Linked DNA regions of Homo sapiens. Each later gene encodes a partner of the first gene's protein in a complex. Each region holds a gene or a part of one and is shown in the gene's direction. Other genes may lie near its edges.

Region 1 (4,184 bases):
TAGCCACTTTGGTTCGTCTCTTTAAGCTAGGGGTTCACATCTCTACTCCAGATGTATTGAACTGTGTACTTCGGTCCTTCAAATAGGCCAGTCTCTTATTTGGCTCCCCTTCTTGCACCCCCATCCCCCAACCCCCACTCTCCACCTTTAGGTTTGTTCCTTGTTGAGAGTTTAGATGCTGCTTTCTCCAGGAAGCCTTCCTAGAGTTGCTTGGGCAAATGGATGTTGGAGCCTCTCATTGAATTAGCCAATGCTGGAGAACAGCTTTTGTGGAGGAAATTGATGTTTTACTTTGTTCATGAAATCTGATCAGGTGTCAGTTGAACATTCAGGTAGAGATGTGTGATAGGTTGTCTAGTGTACAAAGCTGGAGACTAGGAACAAGATCTAGGTTGAGAGTATAGTTGTAGGAGTTACCAGTTTATAAATGGTAATTCAAACTGTAGAGTGTATGAAATGAGCTAAAGGGGAGAGTGTAGATTCAGAAGAGAAGAAAATACTGAAATCCCGAAGAAAACCCATGTTTAAGGGAGAATGAAGGGAGAAGAGGAGAAGATTGAAGAGTAACCTGTGAGATTAGAGAAAAACTAGAAAAGCATGCACTCATGGAAGCCAAGCATATCAAGTAGGATGAGGACAGTAAAGAGTGTTCACAGGATTTAACAACAAATAAGTCATTGGTGATCTTGACAAAACACTTTCTTCCCCCGCCCCAAGACCGATTGTTGCTCTGCTGCCCAGGCTGGAGTGCAGTGGCATGGTCTGGACTCATTGCAACCTCCGCCTCCCAGGTTTAAGCTATTCTCCTGCCTCAGCCTCCAGAGTAGCTGGAATTACAGGGCATGCACCACCACGCCCCGCTAATTTTTTTTTTTTTTAAATAGAGACGGGGTTTCACCATGTTGGCCAGGCTGGTCTCGAACTCCTGATCTTGTGATCCGCCCGCCTCAGCCTCCCAAAGTGCTGGGATTACAGGCGTGAACCACCACACCCAGCCGACAAAAACACTTTCAATGGATTAGTGGATGAGGCGGTCAGATGATAGCAGGTTGAGGAGCTGATTGGCAACAGTGCCTATAGTCAATTATTTTAAGAAGCTTTGCTGTTAAAGGGTTAGGTGAGAATGTGGGAGATTTTTGAGGGAGCTTATTTAATGCTTATGGAAAGGAGCTTGGAAAGAATAGGTTGTAGATACAGAAACCAGGGCAGTTAGTTGATGGAACTCAATTGTTAGGGATATTGGGATTCCAGATGGAAGGTAATCCAGATGGAATACCTTTAGCCGTGAAGGAGTTGTGACAGAAGGAAATGAAGTAAACAAAGGTGTAGGTGCAGCTGATTTGTCATTTTGGGGGCCAAGAAATGAAATGCTTTCCAATTTAATTTTTCTTCTCATTGAAGGCAAAAGTAGTTATCTACTGAAAGTGAGAAGGGGTGGTAAAGTAGTATTTTTGCTAAGTGGAAAGGGTTGAAAATCATTACTGTGAAGAGTAGGAGAGAGAATGGCCTTGAAGAATAAAGAAAGATTGCTGATTAAAAACAGATGTTTAAGGTGGTGACAACATACCAGTGGTGCCTTCTGCATAGCTGTGTAATTTGGGGTATTCACTCAGGCACCTCACTTTCAGCTGAGATTGGAATCCTGAGGGTTGGTATAGAGAAGGTGACTAACAGTTGGTTTATTCAAGGTTGCTGTTTGCTCACTAGACATGACAGAAGAAATATGGGACAAGTGTGTTGAAGTTGGCAAGAAAATGGCCGAAGAGATTAACCATGAAGTCTAGACCAGGAGTTGGCAGACTATAGCCTATAGGCCAAATCTGGCCCACCACCTGTGTTGGTTGTTTTTGGTGATTTTGGTTTTTTTTTCCCCCTTACATTTTAGATGTTTAAATACCTACATAATATCCATAATATGTCTCTTAGCCCACATAACCTATTAATAAAAATACTTACTATTTGACACTTCAGGAAAAAGTTTGCTGACCCCTTATCTAGACTAAAATAGGATTATAATAAAATGGGATGGGACTAACAGGCAGAGAATAGACGGGTCAAGGGCCTTAAAGTCTCGGTAAGATCCAAATATTAGGTATATTGGAAGCAACTGAGCGAGAGACCTGGGAAGGATAGAGGTTGTGGTGAGATAGGATTGTGAGTTGAAGACTTCAGATCTGGGGCAGCTGTGAGTGACCCCAGGTCTAGCTGTGGCCACAGTAGTGGGTAGCTGGAGCAGAGATGGGCCTGTCCGTGGAGTTAAGGGCAAGGAACTAACAGCCTGAGTGGAGACAGTCAAGTTGCCCAGGGGCTGGAGGAAGGGAAGGCTGATGGCCGGCCATTCACATTTCCAATTTGGGATAGGAGAGTTAATATAAATAACAATCAAATATATTCAATCCTTAAACGTGAGGGAAACCTGACTGGAAGGCTGATCATTAATTTTTTTTTTTAAGACCTGGAGCCACAGTGTGGAAGGGGTTGCTAGTGAATAGGGAGGCTTGTGCGTGTTAGGTAGCATTAGTAAATGGTACCAACCACGTAAAGCAGAGCCACCAGCACTTGGGACATTGAACCAAAACCAATCTTCGACGCTTCCAGCTGCCTTACTGGCGATTCATTTAGAAGAACGTGGCTTTCCTTTGTTACTGTAGTTTTTGAAGGCAGAACTAGCATGAGTTTGTGGATACAGACTTCAGCCTTCCTTCAGTGTTCCATGCACATAATCAGAATGACCTTCCTTCATCGCCGCAGGTTATTCTTACAGCTGGATGGCAGGGTCGTTGAAGAACTTCCTCATGAGTGACCTTCAAGTCCTTTCTAATCCAGATTCTGTGATAATACAAGTATGATGCAATTTTCACTAAAAGCTAAAAAAAAAAGCCCATCTAATCAGAGATGATCTTCACCTCTAATTTCTTGTTTATTGTCAAGTAATACCTCTGTTGCAGGCACTTTATAGGGCTACAAAAATGAGTGGTCCCCGTTGATATTGTGCTGTTATCCGTATCTTCTTTAGCCATTATTTCTTCATATGTGAGAAAGTAGTAGCCTCAGTTTTACTTTAAAAAAAAATTTTTTTTTTAAATTTAGAGTCTTGCTATGTTGCTCAGACTGATCTCGAACTCCTGAGCTCAAGTGATCCTCCTTCTCAGCTTCCTGAGTAGCTGGGACTATAATAGGCTTTGTGCCACCATGCCCAGCTTACTTTTTTCTATTTCTGCTTTATTTTATCCTCATGTCTGGACCATAGATAGATCATTGTTATCCACCAGCAAGAATGTGTCATGGCATAAAACAGTCAAGAAATCTAAGTGAAACCTTGACTGGGCTGTCTTTGGGCTTGTGCGGTAATGCCTCACATGCAGTGAACTCTCAACAAATGGCTTTTAAATTGAATTGGAATCTTCCATTTCTATATTAGCACATTTTGTACCTTTAGGAAAAACTTGATTTTAATGTGTTGTTTTCGTATGTGTTTGCTTGTTTCTTGAGTAGCTGATGGATTTACAACTGAGTGACAGTAACTTTCGTCGACACATCCTGTTGCAGTATCTCATTTTATTCCAATATCTCAAGGGGCAGGTCAAATTCAAAAGGTAAGATAATATGGGTAGTAAACAATTTGTAAACAGTAGCCAAGAAAAAAAAGGACTTGCTTACGATTTTTCTTATGTATGTGTCCATTTCATGTTAAGGCTGTATCCCTAAAACACATGTATTGCAGCTGATACATTGAAGGCTTTTCGATATTAGGATATTTAAGGAAAAGATGTTAAATATATCTGTCAGTGTGAGTTTTTCCTGCCCAACTCCAGGGCTTGCCAGGAGTTGTCGTCTTTATTAGCAGGTGGAGGTCTCTGCTCCAAAATTCCGTCATTCCCTTCTCACCTCCCTCAGACCTCCTCCAAAGCTGATTTGCAGACTAAGCCAGTAATACATATCTCACAAGGTGTGGAGCTCTGCAGGACATTCAAGCTAAAAGATGCAAAGAAAATTTTTAAGCAAAAAGGAGTTCATTTATTTGGGGTTTCACAAAACCTCATTAGGCTCTCTACTGTCTATCTAAATACTTCCATCCATTTCCTCCTATCCTGTCCATAACTGAAGGTGGAGCCCACTGTTACTTAACGGTATTTGTGTTAAGGACACTGAGCAATGCCGTATTAGTTGTATAATGACTTCAC
Region 2 (3,142 bases), on another chromosome or scaffold:
ACTTATTGTTGAATCATAAGTGGTAGCTCCCTTCCATTGTCTAGGACTTTAATGAGTAAGCCCGGAAGAAAGCTCTGGTCTTCTTTCTAGGATAGTGCAATAAACTTGTGGAAGATTATGAGCAAACAGATTATCTTGCTGATTATGTCTGGGTTCCCAGGGGAGAACATTAATATCTGCTGGAGTCCTGATGGGCAGACCATTGCTGTAGGCAACAAGGATGATGTGGTGACCTTTATTGATGCCAAGACACACCGTTCCAAAGCAGAAGAGCAGTTCAAGTTCGAGGTCAACGAAATCTCCTGGAACAATGACAATAATATGTTCTTCCTGACAAATGGCAATGGTTGTATCAACATCCTCAGGTGAGGGGGTCTAGCTTAGGGGACTGTCATGTCTTTGTGCTGGGTGCTGTGTCAGATATGGAGATGAATTAGATGTGAGCCTATCCTGAAGGAGCTTAAAACACAAATAGTAAGAGAGAATCCTAACCTGTCTTAAGTACATTTGAGCTGTATATTTTATATACTTTATATTTTACTGAGTCCTTACAGAAATTCTAGGGGTTGATGATTTGCTTCTCATTTGACAGATGAGGATCTGAGGGTGAGAGGTTACATCAGTAGTCAGCTAGTGTGTGCTAGAACTGGATGCACCTTGAATTATGGCTAATTCGTACTCCCTTTTTTTTTGTTTTTCGAGACAGAGTTTTGCTCTTGTTGCCCAGGCTGCAGTGCAATGGTGTGATCTTGGCTCACCGCAACCTCTGCCTCCGAGGTTAAGCGATTCTCCTGCCTCAGCCTCCCAAGTAGCTGGGATTAGAGGCATGTGCCACCACACCTGGCTAATTTTGTATTTTTTGTAGTTTAGGGTTTCTCCATGTTGGTCAGGCTGGTCTCCAACTCCCGACCTCAGGTGATTAGCCCGACCTCTGGCTAATTCGTACTCTTAAAGTTTCAACTGAAATATCACTTTGCCTTCAGGGAAGCTCCCCCGCTACCCCAAGGTTAGAGGTAGGTTAGAGGCGTATTTTATATACTTTCTGTAGGAAGCACTTTTCTTTCTATATTGTAATTGCATGTTTATTTGCCTGTGTCTCCTGTTAGACTGTGAATTCCTTGATGGTAGGGATGGTGTTTGCCTTGTTTAGTGTTGAGTCCCTAATGTCTAGTCCTGTACCTGCTCCACGTAGTAGGATCTTAGTAAATATTTGTTCTGTAAATGAATGAAACTGTGGAGCTGAAATTCAGGTCTGTTCAATTCTAGCCTTCCACTATCCCAGGTGAACAATGCAAGACCAAGTGAGATAGGTTCTGTGAGTGGGAGGCCAGGAGTTTGCTGTGAAATTCCACGGAAAGAACAGACATACTATATGGGGGGTTGAAGGAGGGAGCTTGTGAGCTTGATCTTGAAAGATGAGCAGAATTTTAAGAATAAGCAAAAGGGAACCACATAACTGACAAAGCAGGTGTGAGTGAGCATGACTTACTTGGAGAGTGGTTAGGTCAGGGTTGTTGGGGGAGTGGTGGCAGATAAGGGAAATAAGAGAGGGCATGATAATGGGAAGATGAAGTCTAATTTGGGACCAGATTATAAAAGGCCTTTATTTTATGCTTAGTATCTTGGGTTTTATTTTGTAGGCAATGGGGATTCTATAACTTTTTAAGAAAAATCTTTTTATTATAAAACACAGATATTGAAAACCACATAAAATAAATGTATAGCTTAATGAACTCTTATAGGCTTAACTCTTGTGCAACCCCGCCCAAGTTGAGAAGTAGTTCTTTCCAGCCATCCCAGAAGTCCATCCAGGTGATTTGTCCTAATTACAACTTCCTTCCACAAAAGCAAACACTATCCTGACTTTTATAGTGTTTCTTCATAGTTTATCTACCACATGTGCAGCCCCTAGATACCCTAGTTTTGCTCATTAAAAAAAAAAAAAATTGATATGTCTTTTGTATCTCTTAAATTACTCAAAAGAAACTTCCGAAAACGTAGCTGTTGAAAAACCAGACTGTTAACCTGTGGAGATTCTCCCAGTTTGGCTTTTGCTGATTCCATATGCTGTTTATGTGTTGGACTGTTGTGTAAAGAGATGCTGCTTCTCATCTGCGATTTGGTTACCCAGTAGTGTAGTTCATGTAGGGAAGGCAGGATAAAATTTTGATTCTGTTTGTCAGATAATGATTTTGTTTCCTGCTACCTCCAAAGATGAGCAGTTAGGTGTTTTTTTTTTAAAGAATCATTACGGGCTGATGTTTTTAAACATAGTTGGTGTGTTTCCATCTCTTGTAATTGTTACGCCTGTTGAAGCTCAAATTATCCCATCTTTGGCCAATAAGAACCTCTTCAAGTTGGTTCCTGAGACCTTTTTTGACATAATCCCATCGTCTTCTGTTTTTTTGCTCTCTGGTTTGATAAGATGTTCCAAGTTCATCTTGTGCATTTCTTGCCCCAGACCTTTAATCAGAACATTCTCCAAGAAGCCTTAACATTCTGGCTGGGTGCGGTGGCTCACGCCTGTAATCCCAGCACTTTGGCACTTTGGGAGGCCGAGGCGAGTGGATCACTTGAGACCTGGCAATCATAGAGAAACCCTGTCTCTACTCAAAATACAAAAATTATCTGGGCGTGGTGACGCACGTGTATATTCCCAGCTGCTTGGCAGACTGAGGCAGGAGAATCGCTTGAACCCGGGAGGCGGAGGTTGTAGTAAGTTTAGATTGCACCACTGCACTCCAGCATTCTGGACGACTGAGTGAGATTCCACCTCAAAAAAAAAAAAAAAAAAGGAGCCTTACATTCTTTTACTGAGAAATGATACTGAAGTTAGGAATGTTCATTACTGCTGGGTTGGCCTAGGAATTACGTGTGTGTGTGTGTGTGTGTGTATATATATATATATTTAAAGATAAAATACCTTATGAATTCATGTTGATAACTTGCAATCAAAATTGAGGACTCCAGGGATTTTACTAAACCTCTTCTATATTACAAATATATTTCTTTCCTCCCAAATTGAGTATTCTGGTTCTCAAGGGCACAGGGGATCATAGAATTAGAATATCCGATGGTTACTTATTACCTATCTCCCATGGTAAACATATAGATGTCTCAGAACAACAATATTACTGCTGCT

The links. The genes of interacting proteins can lie anywhere in the genome.
Region 2: THOC1 (region 1) and THOC3 share a complex: the UniProt entries of both Homo sapiens proteins name them as parts of the transcription/export (TREX) complex.

Annotation. Positions count from the first base shown.
Region 1 is NC_000018.10:226,213-230,396, reverse strand, and holds part of THOC1 (THO complex subunit 1), read left to right. Parts: intron 1-3,495; coding exon 3,496-3,596; intron 3,597-4,184. UniProt on the Homo sapiens protein: Component of the THO subcomplex of the TREX complex which is thought to couple mRNA transcription, processing and nuclear export, and which specifically associates with spliced mRNA and not with unspliced pre-mRNA.
Region 2 is NC_000005.10:175,962,174-175,965,315, reverse strand, and holds part of THOC3 (THO complex subunit 3), read left to right. Parts: intron 1-160; coding exon 161-365; intron 366-3,142. UniProt on the Homo sapiens protein: Component of the THO subcomplex of the TREX complex which is thought to couple mRNA transcription, processing and nuclear export, and which specifically associates with spliced mRNA and not with unspliced pre-mRNA.